Linked DNA regions of Homo sapiens. The protein of the gene in region 1 purifies or fractionates together with the protein of each later gene. This does not show direct contact. Each region holds a gene or a part of one and is shown in the gene's direction. Other genes may lie near its edges.

Region 1 (7,024 bases):
GTGTGACCCACTGTGCCCAGGCAGAATCACTCTTTTTAGAAAATAAGTATTAGTAAGCAGTGGGTTCTGAAATAAATAAAGGGACAATTAGTGTCATGGTGAATAAAAGAAAAAGGGCTCACTAAATTGATTAACGGGTCTGGAGGATACTGGATCCCAAACCCAAGAAGGTGGCACCCAAGAAGAATTACATTTTAAAAATTAAGAAGATTTTTTTAATGAAAAATATTGGATCAGTAATTTCTACCCAGTCTTCTCAAAGGTGAGAGCATAGAAATGTGTCTGGCATTCTTCCAAATACTTGAGCAGTTTCCCAAGCATCAGTTCATCTTTTGAAGACTGGTGGGAATGAGAAAGTCTGACTTATTCTGATTTATATTTTGTGTATAAATACACACAAAGGGATGGGGTTTAGGTTTTAATTTTTTTTTTTTTTTTTTTGCTACGCTGATTTAATCCTGAAGTATTAGCCATCCTGCCAGTTCCATCATGAGAATACTGGAGATGCATGAAGGTTTTTTTTAGTGCACTTCATATACGAGGACTTGAAAACATTTCACTTTCATTACTTTGAGTGAATAAGCAGACTTGATGCTACATGCAGTGAATATTCTTGGATCATTTTTTATTTTTATAAATTGAATCATGTTGAATGTTCTGAGCCTTAGTGTCTAAAGGATCCTGTAATCTAGGTTTTCATGTTTGTGATCATGTGTATATGAAGAACCTAGCCAGGGGTAAGTTTGCAGCGAGAAATGTATGGTCTATTGGCATGGCATTTGCTAAGTTTTTTTCTTCCTGTTTTTAACATGTTTGTCTTCTGCTTCATTAACCTAGTGTGTAGATGAATGCTATACACTTCTTTTTCCTAGGCTTTAATTCCATCAGTCATAAATTTCTTGTAGGTCTTTCACGTGTTAATAATTCCAATTGAGTCAAGTAAATTTGGAGTAGAATAACTTAGTTCCTAAGTTGAATTTCATTTAACTCTCCAAATAATTTTTCAGAAGGGATTCCATTTTTTGCTAATGATAGAATTGACATTTCCAGCTGGGCATAGTGGCTCATGCCTGTAATCCTAGCACTTTGGGAGGCCGAAGCAGGCGGATCACTTGAGGTCAGGAGTTCAAAACCAGCCTGGCCAAAATGGCGAAACCCCATCTCTACTAAAAATACAAAAAAATTAGCCGGGCGCAGCGATCACTTGTAATCCCAGCTACTACGGAGGCTGAGGCAGGAGAATCGCTTGAACCTGGGAGGTGGAGATTGCAGTGAGCCGAGATCATACCACTGCACTCCAGCCTGGAAAAAAAAAGAATTGACATTTCCATCTTTGTAAAAAATAGTTGAAGGCCGAGTGCAGTGGCTCATGCCTGTAATCCCAGCACTCTGGGAGACCAAGGTGGGACGATTGCTTGAGGCCAGGTGTTTAAGACCAGCCTAGGCAACGTAGAGAGATTGCATCTCTACAAAAAAAAAATTTTTTTGAATTAGCCAGGCGTGGTGGCACATGCCTGTAGAGGAAGCTGAGACAGGAGGATTGCTTAAGGCCAGGTGTTCAAGGTTACAGTGAGCAATGATCGAGCCAGTACACTCCATCCTGGGTGACAAGTAAGACCCTGTCTCAAAAAAAAAAAAACTTGACAAATGTAAAGTTGTTTTCCGCCTTTTCTGTGGGTCTCTCTGCAAGCATGTTCCAAGCACGTGTATTTCCTGCTCTGTTTCTCTGAGTATCTAATTGGTGATTTCCAAGATTGCTTCCTTTGCTCTACTGTGTGGTAGATTGGAAACAGATTCTGGTGCCAGGCTGCCTGTCCAGCTTTTTGCTTTGGGGCAAATTAACAGCACTGCCTGGTGGGATAGGGCCTCATTCATTAAAATGGGGGTAACTTACAATCCCTATTTTGCTGGGTTGTTGGGTTTGAAAATTAAATAATGTTTTGAAAGCTCCAAGGCCATTGCTTAGCATAACAGTCCCCCCTCTTTCTCTCCTCTTACTAAGAAACAAGTGAATATATTTCTTGTGTTTGTTGAGTCTCTTTGTGTGTTTTTTTTTTTTTTTTTTTTTTTGAGATTGTCTTGCTCTGTCACCCAGGCTGGAGTGCAGTGGCATGATCTTGGCTCACTGCAACCTCTGCCTCCTGGGTTCAAGCAATTCTCCTGCCTCAGCCTCCAGAGTAGCTGGAATTACAGGCATGCGCCACCACACCTGGCTAATTTTTGTATTTTGAGTAGAGACTGGGTTTTACCATGTTGGCCAGGCTGGTCTTGAACTCCTGACCTCAGGTAATCCGCCTGCCTTGGCTGCCCAAAGTGCTGGGATTATAGGCATAAGCCACCATGCCCGGCCATGTTCCCTTTTTTAAAATGTGTATGAGGAGGGGGCTTACTATGCAAGCGCTTGGAGGCCAACGAGCACTGAAAATGAGGAGAGAGTTCAAAAATCAAGTTAGATCCTGGGATACGCCAACAAATCCAGACACTACAGTTCTTTCGGAGAAACCTGGGGACGAAAAGTAAGGCTTTGACCTCAGAAAATGAACATACAGGAAAAATAATGTGTCCTAATGTGTCCTAATGAAATTTCTCTAGTATTCACATGTTATAAAATGTTAGGAAGAAAGAAGATGTGTCCTCCTACAAGCCATAAATCAGAATTCTAATAATCTAAAGCTAATTAGAAAAATATTACATGTTAAATATTAAATATTAGAATAGAAAAATGTATGAGGGAAAAAAATTGAGACACAGCTGAATTTTTCAGGCTGTTCCAGCACTAAAAAAAAAATACAGGAGAAGAATGTCACATATTTTCCTCTTCCTCCCCCTCCAGATTCCATAATATCAAATTCATAACTTTTCATTTGCGCATGCCTTATTTTCCATTCCTTGTTTGTCACTAATCCTGTTAGTAAAAGGATTCCCCCACCTATGTTCATAATTAAGTTTTGGTCTAAAAAGAACTACAAACAGAAGCACAGTTCCCTAGATTTCTAATTTTTTTTTATTTTATCACAGCCAGTTAACTTATTACATTGGATACTTAAACACATAGTACCATAAACTGGATGTGGTCTTGTAGCCGCCAGATCTTCAGTTTTGACTTTGGCCCAATTCTCCTAGAAGTACTTAATTTTAATTCATTTTATTACCTAACGTCCTATTAATAATCCCGTTGGTTTCAAAGTATATTCTTAGGTTTCACAAGAGGCTGAAATTTGGTCTTAGGGGTTGTCACTTAAAAATAACTAATGTAATTTTTGGCCGGGCACGGTGGCTCATGCCTGTAGTCTCAGCACTTTGGGAGGCCAAGGCTGGCAGATCACGAGGTCAGGAGTTCGAGACCAGCCTCACCAATATGGTGAAACCCCATCTCTACTAAAAGTAGAAAAATTAGCCAGGCACGGTGGCGGGCGCCTGTAATCCCAGCTACTCAGGAGGCTGAGGCAGGAGAATCACTTGACCCCAGGAGGCAGAGGTTGCAGTGAGCCAATATCGCCCACTACACTCCAGCCTGGGCGACAGAGGGAGACTCCATCCAAAAAAAAAAAAAAGAAAAAAAAATGTCATTTTTAATTGTATTGTTTCAGGGCGTTTTAGAGTATTTGTTTTTCAGTGTTAGCTTTGTTTGTGTTTCCCCCCTCCCCTTTTCCCTGATTTTCTTTTCAGACGTCTTTTTACAAGGGAAACGGTTCCACGAAGCCTTGGAAAGCATACTTTCACCCCAGGAAACCTTAAAAGAGAGAGATGAAAATCTCCTCAAGTCTGGTTACATTGAAAGTGTCCAGCATATTCTGAAAGATGTCAGTGGAGTGCGAGCTCTTGAAAGTGCTGTTCAACATGAAACCTTAAACTATATAGGTCTGCTGGACTGTGTGGCTGAGTATCAGTAAGTATGAGATTGGAGGTGAATTAATACAGCGTAGGACAGATGGTGCCTGTCAAAGGTGTGCCTGTAGGTACTGTAGCCTCTGTCTGTTTAATGTCCAGACCTTTGTGCTAGGTAAAAGAATTGGGTGGGGCGGGGTTGAGAACAGGTACAAGGAGAAGAGCCACGTAACCTTTGTCATCCAGTACTCCAAAATCAAATTGTTTGCTGGAGAAAGGTATATTCTTTGTTTGTTTGTTTTGTTTTGAGACGGAGTGTCACCCAAGCTGGAGTGCAGTGGTGCAATCTTGGCTCACTGCAACCTCCGTCTCCCAGGTTCAAGCGGTTCTCCTGCCTCAGCCTCCTGAGTAGCTGGGACTACAGGCATGCACCACCGCACCTGGCTAATTTTTGTATTTTTAGTAGAGACAGGGTTTCACCATGTTGGCCAGGCTGGTCTCAAACTCCCGACCTCAAGTGATCCATCCACCTTGGTTTCCCAAAGTGCTGGGATTACAGGCGTGAGCCACTGCACCTGGCCGAGATTTTTCAATCTCCCTAACATGGCCTGTTTGCCAGCCTGTCCTTCCCCTCCCCCAAAGCAAGGTACCTGCCATAAGATCCAATTTCATTCCTGCGTTTTCTTTCCTGTTTTTCTAAAGATAGCACCATGATCTGTTGGTTCTGAAAATCAACTCTTCCTGGCTTCCAGGCAGTGCTTGACATGGATCAGAGATCTGAACTTACTAAAGCTTCCCATGGTTGTTTTGTTTTGTTTTGTTTCGTTTTGTTTTTTGAGACGGAGTTTTGCTCTTGTTGCCCAGGCTGGAGTGCAGTGGTGCGATTTCAGCTCACTGCAACCTCCATCTCCTAGGTTCAAGCTATTATCTTGCCTCAGCCTCCCAAGTAGCTGGGATTACAGGCATGCGCCACCATGTGTGGCTGATTTTGTATTTTTAGTAGAGATGGGGTTTCTCCATGTTGGTCAGGCTGGTCTCGAACTTCGGACCTCAGGTGATCCGCCTGCCTCAGCCTCCCAAAGTGCTAGGATTGTAGGCATGAGCCACCACGCCCGGTCCCCATGGTTTTTATATCGTAGCTGTCTTACTGTTTTACTCAGGTACTTCAGAGTCCAAGTGTTACAGGAAAGGGGTCCTGATCCAGACCCCGAGAGGGTTCTTCGATCTCGGGCAAGAAAGAATTTAGGTTGAAGGCAGGCACAGTGGCTCACGCCTGTAATCCCAGCACTTTGGGAGGCCGAGGTGGGCAGATCACCTGAGGTCAGGAGTTCAAGACCAGCCTAGCCAACATGGCAAAACTCCGTCTCTACTAAAAATACAAAAATTAGCCAGGCGCAGTGGTGTGTGCCTATAGTCCCAGCTACTCGGGAGTCTGAGGCAGGAGAATCACTTTAACCCGGGAGGCAGAAGTTGCAGTGAACCGAGATGGTGCCACTGCACTCCAGCCTGAGCAACAGGTGAGACTCTGTCTCAAAAAAAAAAAAATAAAAGAAAGAAAAGAAAAAGCATTCAGGATGAGTCTGCAGTGCAAAGTAAAAGCAGGTTTATTAATAAAGTAAAGTAGTGGAAGTATAGCTACTCCATAGACAGAGCAGGGCGTTCCTGAAAGTAAGAGGAGGAACACTTCCACCCTAAGTACAGTGCTCATATATATAAGATAAAAAAAGAGATCTTGGGGAGATGTGCTCTACTGCAAGGGTTTGTGATAAAGGATTAATTTTCTTAATTATTATATTTTGCAAGAATCGATACTATCTTTAAAGCAAAATTAGGAATGCCTTCGTTCTCCAGATATCAGGGTATCTGGACACTCCCAAGTCTGGGTCTGTTTAGTAAACATTATTAATTTGTTCCCTTAACCTTAAACATCTAGAGGCTATGAATGCCTGACTTTCTGGGAATGCAGCCCAGCAAGGCCCAGCCTCACTTTCCTAGCCCTCACTCAAGATGGAGTTGCTCTCGTTCGAACGCCTCTGATACAAAGGTGGCTACAACCTGCAGGTACCCCTAATCCAAATAAGGCAAGCGATCACTAAGAACAAGATAGAAAAATCCGTTCATGTAAACCTTGAAGCTCTAGTTAAAATTTAAGTTTAAAAGCTTGTCTATTCCACAGCCCAATACAAATTCGTAAACTTTCTTAAAACATTATGAGATTTTTTTTTGGTTATTTATTTATTTATTTTTAGTTCATCAGCTATTGTGTGGCCCAAGACAATTCTTCCAATGTGGGCCAGGAAGCCGAAAGAGTGGGCACCCTTGATAGTCTGAAAACTGTTTAGACCACCTAATGGTTTTATTTTTTATTTATTTATTTTTGAGACGGAGTTTCACTCTTGTTGCCCAGGTTGGAGTGCAATGGCGTGATCTTGGCTCACTGTAACCTCTGCCTCCTGGGTTCAAGCGATTCTCCTGCCTCAGCCTCCCAAGTAGCTGGGATTAGAGGTGCACGCCACCACACCCGGCTAATTTTTGTGTTATTAGTAGAGATGGGGTTTCGCCATGTTGGCCAGGCTGGTCTCGAACTCCTGACCTCAGGTGATCCACCCACCTCAGCCTCCCAAAGTGCTGAGATTACAGACGTGAGCCACCGCGCCTGGCCTAGACCACCTAATGGTTTTATAGCACAACTGCGTCATATCTGAGAAGAGCCCTGTATACCAAGAGATTTAATAGACTTTGGTTGCCTTTTAGATAAACCAAGGAAGCCATACAGTCACCTCCACCCAAGGCCTACAAGAAGTTCCTGACACCCAATGCTTGTCATAGAGATGATAAAATATGTCCATAGCACTGTTGTTTGTTTTTTGCTTTTTAAGTCAACATCAACCTTGGTAATATGAACATTTTTGAAACTACGGTTTTTTTTTGTTGTTTTTGTTTTTGTTTTTGAGACAGAGTCTTGCTCTGTCACCCAGACTGGAGTGTGGTGGCCCAATCTCAGTTCACTGCAACCTCTGCCTCCTGGGTTCAAGCAATTCTCCTGTGTCAGCCTCCCCAAGTGGCTAGGACTACAGGCACCCACCACCACGCCTGGCTAATTTTTTGTGTTTTTAGTAGAGATGGGGTTTGGACATGTTGCCCAGGCTGGTCTCGAGCTCCGGGCCTTGAGTGATCTGCCCGCCTCAGCCTCCCA
Region 2 (7,490 bases), on another chromosome or scaffold:
GTTCCAGTGACACCATATGTGTGAAGACTGAAATGGGAATTTCCCATGGTTTCCATGTATTGTGGAATATTATTTGTGACCATTTAAACATGCAAACCATGGCCGAGCACCATGCCTCACACCTGTAATCCCAACACTTTGGGAGGCCCAGGTAAGAGAATCGCTTGAACCTAGGAGTTCCAGACCACCCTGGGCAACATAGTAAGACTTTGTCTATACAAATAAAAAAACTAGCCAGGCATGGTGGCACATGCCTGTAGTCCCAGCTACTCAGGAGGCTGAGATGGGAGGATCACTTGAGCCTGGGAGTTTGAGGCTGCCATGAGCCATGATCTCATCACTGCACTCCAGCCTGGGTAACAGAGTGAGTGACCCTGTCACAAACAAAAACCAGAAAAACAAAAAAAATGTCAACCATGTTTGTTTTGCTTGCGGGAGGGAGGCTGAATTTGGCCTGTGGCTGTAGTTTGCTGAACTTTGAACCTTGCAGTGGATGAGCACTGAGGAGTGAGACTGAGTTTTTGACTTGGTGCATCTGGCAGCACTGCATGGAGGAGGTGGCACTAGAACTGGTCCCTGATGGGTTGGGATGTAGTCGTAGTGGCAAACTTGTGTAATCTTCACTTTGTGCTTTTCATGTACTGACTCACCAAATGCAACATCCCCAGACACTAGGTAGTTTTATCACCCCAGTTCCGTAGGTGAGGGAACAGAGGCACGAGGCTCACTAGCTCGTCTGACGTCCTGTGTGCATATGGGGACAGAATGGAAACCTGGCACTTAGCCTCAGAGTCCACACTTGCAACGACGGCTCTTTGGTATGGGTGGGGGTGCAAGGAAGCAGCAAGGTTTCTGTAGATGATGAATTGCCGGTGGGATAGGTGGGTTGGGGCTGGGGTTGGGCAGGAGAGGGCAATGCCTCGATGCAGGCTTTATTTTATGTTCACTCCAGGGAGGAGGTTTTTAGAGGATGTCACGACTAGGGTTGAGTGTCAGTTAATCTGTCTGTCTCTGCTCTGCAGAGTGCTTTTTGTCATGGATTGACATTATTTAATAGCCAGCATGGTAGACTTAGATGGTAGGGTTGTAATTTCTAATGTGAGCCCTGACACTAATTTAGTAGACAGTAGTCAAAAGGTGTGTTGGGATGTGTGTGTGTGTGTCCATGTGCACACACGTGTGTAATTGGAGTAATTGACTTTTATTTATTTTTTTGAGACAGGGTCTCACTCTGTTGCCCAGGCTGGAGTGCAGTGGTTTGATCACGGATCACTGCAGCCTCAGCCTCCTGGGCTCAAGCCATCCTCCCACCTCAGCCTCCTGAATATCTGGGACTACAATTGTGTGCCACCGCACCTGGTTAATTTTTGTACTTTTTGCAGAGATGAGGTTTTGCCATGTTGCCTAGCCTGATCTTGAATTCCTGGACTCAAGTAGTCTGCCTCTCTTGGCCTCCCAAAGTGCTAGGATTACAGGCATAAGCCACTGAGCTGGGCTGGAGTAATTGAATTTTATTTTCTTATTTTTTTATTATTTTTATTTTTTTAGAGTCAGGGAATTGCTATGTTGGCCGGGATGGTCTTGAACTCTTGGCCTCAGGCAGTCCTCCTGCCGCGGTCTCCCAAGGTGCTAGGATTACAGGTGTGAGCCACCGCACCCAGATGGAGTAATTGAATTTTAAACTCTGGGCATATACTGAACCTGTGTACTACTTTGTTTCATTTGTGAGCTCAATTATAGAAAAACCAAAGTTGTTCACAAGGGAATCTTTCACAAACTATCTCTTTATTTGCTCTTTCTCTATTTAGGAGCAGATGGAAAAGTTGAAGCAAAAGGCATCAAAGGTGATCAAGGCTCAAGAGGATCCCCAGGAAAACATGGCCCCAAGGGGCTTGCAGGGCCCATGGGAGAGAAAGGCCTCCGAGGAGAGACTGGGCCTCAGGGGCAGAAGGGGAATAAGGGTGACGTGGGTCCCACTGGTCCTGAGGGGCCAAGGGGCAACATTGGGCCTTTGGGCCCAACTGGTTTACCGGGCCCCATGGGCCCTATTGGAAAGCCTGGTCCCAAGGGAGAAGCTGGACCCACGGGGCCCCAGGGTGAGCCAGGAGTCCGGGGAATAAGAGGCTGGAAAGGAGATCGAGGAGAGAAAGGGAAAATCGGTGAGACTCTAGTCTTGCCAAAAAGTGCTTTCACTGTGGGGCTCACGGTGCTGAGCAAGTTTCCTTCTTCAGATGTGCCCATTAAATTTGATAAGATCCTGTATAATGAATTCAACCATTATGATACAGCAGTGGGGAAATTCACGTGCCACATTGCTGGGGTCTATTACTTCACCTACCACATCACTGTTTTCTCCAGGAATGTTCAGGTGTCTTTGGTCAAAAACGGAGTAAAAATACTGCACACCAGAGATGCTTACGTGAGCTCTGAGGACCAGGCCTCTGGCAGCATTGTCCTGCAGCTGAAGCTCGGGGATGAGATGTGGCTGCAGGTGACAGGAGGAGAGAGGTTCAATGGCTTGTTTGCTGATGAGGACGATGACACAACTTTCACAGGGTTCCTTCTGTTCAGCAGCCAGTGACAGAGGAGAGTTTATAAATCTGCCAGACCATCCATCAGAATCAGCTTGGGATGAACTTATTCAGATGGTTTTACTTTATTAATTCCTCCAATTATTACAATAATCATAAAAAGGTGAAAACGGAAAAGTTATTCCCAAAACTGATTCTATGTAACTTACTATTTTTCCAGGAGTAAATATTTAAAATAGCTGCATGGTTTATTCTAATTTATTTCACATTTCTTATTCCTATTATCTGAAGAATCCTTTGTCTGTGCATTTCTTGTGGGAAGAGTGTTTTGATATCATTTTAGTGCTCTGAGGAGTCATATGAAGATGTATCCCTCATCTGTGTTTCTGAGGACATTAAGGGGAAATTAGAGGGAAATGTTTATTCCATTTAGTACTAGTAACAGCTTTAAGCTGGTGATGCTGTCACACTCCAGAAAGCTGTAGACACTGCTCATTTTGTCTTTTTTTAAAAAATGTATTTTTAAGTTCTGGAATACATATGCAGAACGTGCAGGTTTGTTACATAAAAATGTGCTGTGGTGGTTTGCTGCATCTGTCAACCCATCACCTATGCAGGTATTAAGCCCTGCATGCATTAGCTATTTGTCCTGGTGCTTTCCCTCCCATTTTGCTCATTTTCTAACCTAGGTTTTAATCACCATTCTATCCAACAAATCATTGTTTGATCATTATTTGCCAGACATGAATCTCTACTTGTTTTCTAGGATCGCCCTAATAAAGTACACAAACTGGGAGTCTTTAAACAACAGAAACGGACTTTCTCACAGTTCTGTAGGCTGGAAGTTTGAGATCACCGTAGCAGCAGGGCCATCCTCCCTCCAAAGGGGATACAGGAGGATGCAGCCTTGCTGCTTCCAGCTTCTGGCAGCTGGTGGCAGCATCACTCCAGTCCCCGCCTCCATCTTCAGGTGGCTGTCCTCCTCCTGTATCAGCCAAATTTTCCTCTTCTTACAAGAACAGCTTCCCTAATCTAGTATGACCCATCTTAATCATAATTGCAAACTCCATATTTTCAAATAAGGTCACATGTACAGGCACCGAGGGTTAGGACTTCAGCATCTATTTTGGGAGACACAGTTCAACCCAATCTGCCCTCTGGTTCCCAAAATTGATTTCCTTCTCATGTGCAAAATACATTTTCGCACCATGTCAACATTACCAAAAGTCTTAACACTTTCCGCATCAACTCCTCTCACCATCTACATCATTTAAATAAGCTACAGAGGAGACTTACTGTGTGATTCATCGTGTGGCAAAATGTCTCTCCATCTGTGATCCTGTGAAGCGAGACGAGTTAATCCACTTCTAAAAGACCGGGGGTTGGAGGGGGAGACAGGCATAGGGTAGACAATCCATTCCAAAAGAGAGAAAGGGGAAGGAAAAAAGGGTTCACGGGTCCCAGGCAATTCTGAAACCCTGGAGGGAAAATCCCATTAGACTTCTTTCACTATTTCCCATCTAAAATTTTTAACTGAGCTATGCAAGAGTAAAAAGTTACCGGACAGAGACACCAAACAGAGAAGTGCAGGATAAATTTACCAAGAGAGTAGGTTAAAAGGGAAACTTCTCCTTCAGGCCTATGGTGGGCATTTCTTGTTTACTCAAGTACCTGCCGTCTCTCAAAGAATATCTAATGTCCACTGGAATTCGAATATGTCATGATTTTACTCGCGCCCACCCCTAGTCAACTTGGGAGGGAAGCGCAACCCTAGCCTTTTCTTACTCTGGACACAGGGGGCGGTAAACCGGGAGGGCGGCCGAGAAGGCGAGGGGGAGCGACGCTCTTGCTCTCTGGACGACAACGTGCCCACGTCCTGAGGCCGCGCCCAGACCCGGAAGCGGGGCCGTCACGTGGGGCGGCGTGGGCTGCTGCCTTGGAAACGCGGAGCGCGCGCTCCCAGCGAAAGCAGCAGGGCAGGGATCTGCGTTGGAGGAAGGGACTGCTCTGGTGCTAGAATGCTGTGCGTCGGAAGGCTGGGCGGCTTGGGAGCCAGAGCAGCAGCTCTGCCGCCCCGCCGGGCGGGCCGGGGAAGCCTCGAAGCCGGGATCCGGGCCCGAAGGGTCAGCACCAGCTGGTCTCCCGTGGGCGCCGCCTTCAATGTCAAGCCCCAGGGCAGCCGCTTGGACCTGTTCGGCGAGCGCCGGGTGAGCGGCGCAGGAGGAGCTCCCCTCAGTCCCCGAGCTAAGCCGACCCCTGCTCCGCGCGGCCAGCAACAATCAGGGCGAGATTGTTTGGGCCTGGGAGGAGGCGAGCAGCGAACCCACCTTTTACAGTGGCGTCTTGTGTGCGCTCTCGATGAGGGCAAGGTCACCTCTGCTTTGAGGGGCCGGGTTTAGTGGTCTCCTACCCAGAGTGTCGGGTCCGGGAACTGCTTCTGCATGAGCCCCTTGCTCCACGTGAATCTGAATAGTTCGTTCTGGCAGTGGCGGTGAATTCGTCCTGCCAGGACCCGCCCTCTGCATACACTCAGGCGCACCCCTGCTAAAGCCCTTTAGCTCCAGCGCTACAGTCCTGCCTTAAGAGGCCTATCCCTGTGCGTTCACAGGCGGCATCACATGGTCTTTTTGCAAGGACACGGCTGCCTGCAGTCGAGTAATGGTAATTTCATTAATACCTGAAATTCCATCATCTATTAATTAATTTATTTCAAAGCTTTGGGCTTTCTTGTTTTAAAACACAAAACTCTGTTGAGACGAGTCTCACTTCCCATAGTGCCATGGAATTGGTCACTTTGATTTCTTACCCCAGGAAGTCACTAGCCTGCGTTGTCTAGTGAAAGGTGAGAGGAAGGCAAGGTTGGAAAGGACTTACCTGATGCCTGTTCTACTTGGAGTTTGTACATTTTGTCCGTTTTAGGTTAAGGATTACTTTTATTTTTGCCTTTTAAAATTTCGTTATACTGTATTGCCTTATAAAGACAAGTCTAGGGTATTGTTGCACTGAGCTAAAGTGTGTGATTCTTGTTTTATCTCCATTATCAGTTTTGTCTATTTAAAAATTATTTTGTGTGAAATTTGCTACACCACCTTCCTTAAGGGTATGTAGTGTTGGTATTAACATAGTTGGTGTGAAGAGACCTACTTGTAGGCGCTGAGCAGAAAGACGTGAGGGGAAGCCTGATTTTGGGTGGATGAGATATAACTAATTTTAGCTTTTATTTTTCCCTTTTTGTATCATGATATTCGGCACTGATAGCAGATTTTCAAATTTTAGAATTGATTTTTGCCTTGAAAAAAAAAAAGCCTTATTCAGTTTTTTAGCATTATGGTCACTGGTAATCCGATAGTTAGAATTCCCGAGAGCAATATGGGCAGGTTGTACTGGGAAGTGGAAGTAGTCTGTGCTTGAATCAAATTAAATCAGTATAAAGATGACATTTGTTTTTGGTCCTGATTTTCCTTTGTCTCCCACTGACTTTCTTTTATTTTATTTTTTATCTTGTAATATATTTTGAAGAGAGATTACTAGCTTAACTTCATCCATCCCTTCTTGTAGAAACAGTAGGGCTTGTCAGGCCTGAAGGTTTACCTGTTCGTATTTCTGAAAATCTATGCGTTAAGCACCTACAAAGTGAATTAACAAAGCCTAGCATCTGCTCCGGTCACTTGTTTCTTTCATTGAGTTCCCCCATGTGTTAGACATTCTATTGGATAGCTGGTTAAAGAAATGAAGGGCAGGGCTCTTGGGTCTGGAAGCTCACCTTTTCAGGAGAGAAGACTTTCAAACAGATAAATTGTAATAGAGAAGTATGGAAAAGTGTGGGCTTTACAGATGTACAGAGCGGGTTCGAGTTCTGTCTTTCCCAATATTAATTTGTGACCTCAAACAAGTTTTTTCTAACGTCTTAAAGCATGTGGCCTGATCTGTAAAAGAATGATACTCTGTTCTGTAGGATTGTGTGATTTAAATGAGAACCTATGTAAAGTAGCAGGCACACTTCATGGTATGCAGTAGGTGCATATTAAATGCTTTTTCCCCCTGCCTTCCTGAGTGTGCTAACAAGTGTGATTGAATAGGTAACAAGAGAATGGTCATTACCATTAGATCAGTGATTTTTGTTTTTATCAAGATATTGAAATGTCTTTGTAACGTATAAAATTTGCTCCCAGTTTCAGCCTATGATTTTAATATGTTCATTACATTTTTCTAAAATATCTATTGCTTCATAGTCAACTCATCCTCCCTATTTGATAGTTATAGAATAATTGGTACTATGTACTGAGATCTCACCTTGTCAGCTGCTGCTGTTAGTACTTTACATATACTTATTACCTGTATCCATGCTGTAAGGTATGTATCGTCATTCCCATTGTACATGATGAAAAAAATATTTCTCCTAGGAGGAGAAATAACATGACCAGGGTTATAAGCTAATAATAATTATGGCTAACATCTATAAATGCTCTGTGCCAAACACTGCTTTATGTATATATATATATATATTTACATATATGATCTCATTTAATCTTTGCGGCCACTCTTAGGTTCTGTAGAAGTGACAGCTGGATTTTGAACCCATACCATTGTTGTTGTTGTTTTTTCCGGAAAATAATTAAAAATTGAAGAAAAATTATGTTCTGAAAACATTTTTAGTGTAATTTATGTGGAGTGATATGGGGAGTATGATAGTGGTATCTGTGATCACAGGTATAACATGATACACCAATGAAAGTCAAGATCTCCTTTGTGATAAAAGTAATTTTAGTAAATATAAAAAAAGCACAATTTTGAATTTTGGTTATAAATCAGACGTATTCTTTGGTTCTAAGGGTCTTTTTGGAGTTCCTGAGCTGAGTGCCCCAGAAGGATTTCATATTGCACAAGAAAAAGCCTTGAGAAAGACAGAATTGCTTGTGGACCGTGCATGTTCCACCCCACCTGGGCCCCAGACCGTGC

The links. The genes of interacting proteins can lie anywhere in the genome.
Region 2: the proteins of MGME1 (region 1) and MIPEP purify together in Homo sapiens (co-immunoprecipitation; 3 studies listed by BioGRID and IntAct, with this or other methods). This does not show direct contact.

What each region holds. Positions count from the first base shown.
Region 1 is NC_000020.11:17,972,015-17,979,038, forward strand, and holds part of MGME1 (mitochondrial genome maintenance exonuclease 1 isoform 2 precursor), read left to right. Parts: intron 1-692; coding exon of another isoform or gene 693-737; intron 738-3,669; coding exon 3,670-3,889; intron 3,890-7,024. UniProt on the Homo sapiens protein: Metal-dependent single-stranded DNA (ssDNA) exonuclease involved in mitochondrial genome maintenance. Has preference for 5'-3' exonuclease activity but is also capable of endonuclease activity on linear substrates.
Region 2 is NC_000013.11:23,886,380-23,893,869, reverse strand, and holds the start of MIPEP (mitochondrial intermediate peptidase), read left to right. Parts: upstream 1-4,469; 5' UTR 4,470-4,549; coding exon 4,550-4,738; exon of another isoform or gene 4,739-5,189; coding exon of another isoform or gene 5,190-5,192; intron 5,193-7,363; coding exon 7,364-7,490. Other genes in the region: C1QTNF9B (complement C1q and tumor necrosis factor-related protein 9B precursor), read left to right, coding at 1,809-2,581. UniProt on the Homo sapiens protein: Cleaves proteins, imported into the mitochondrion, to their mature size.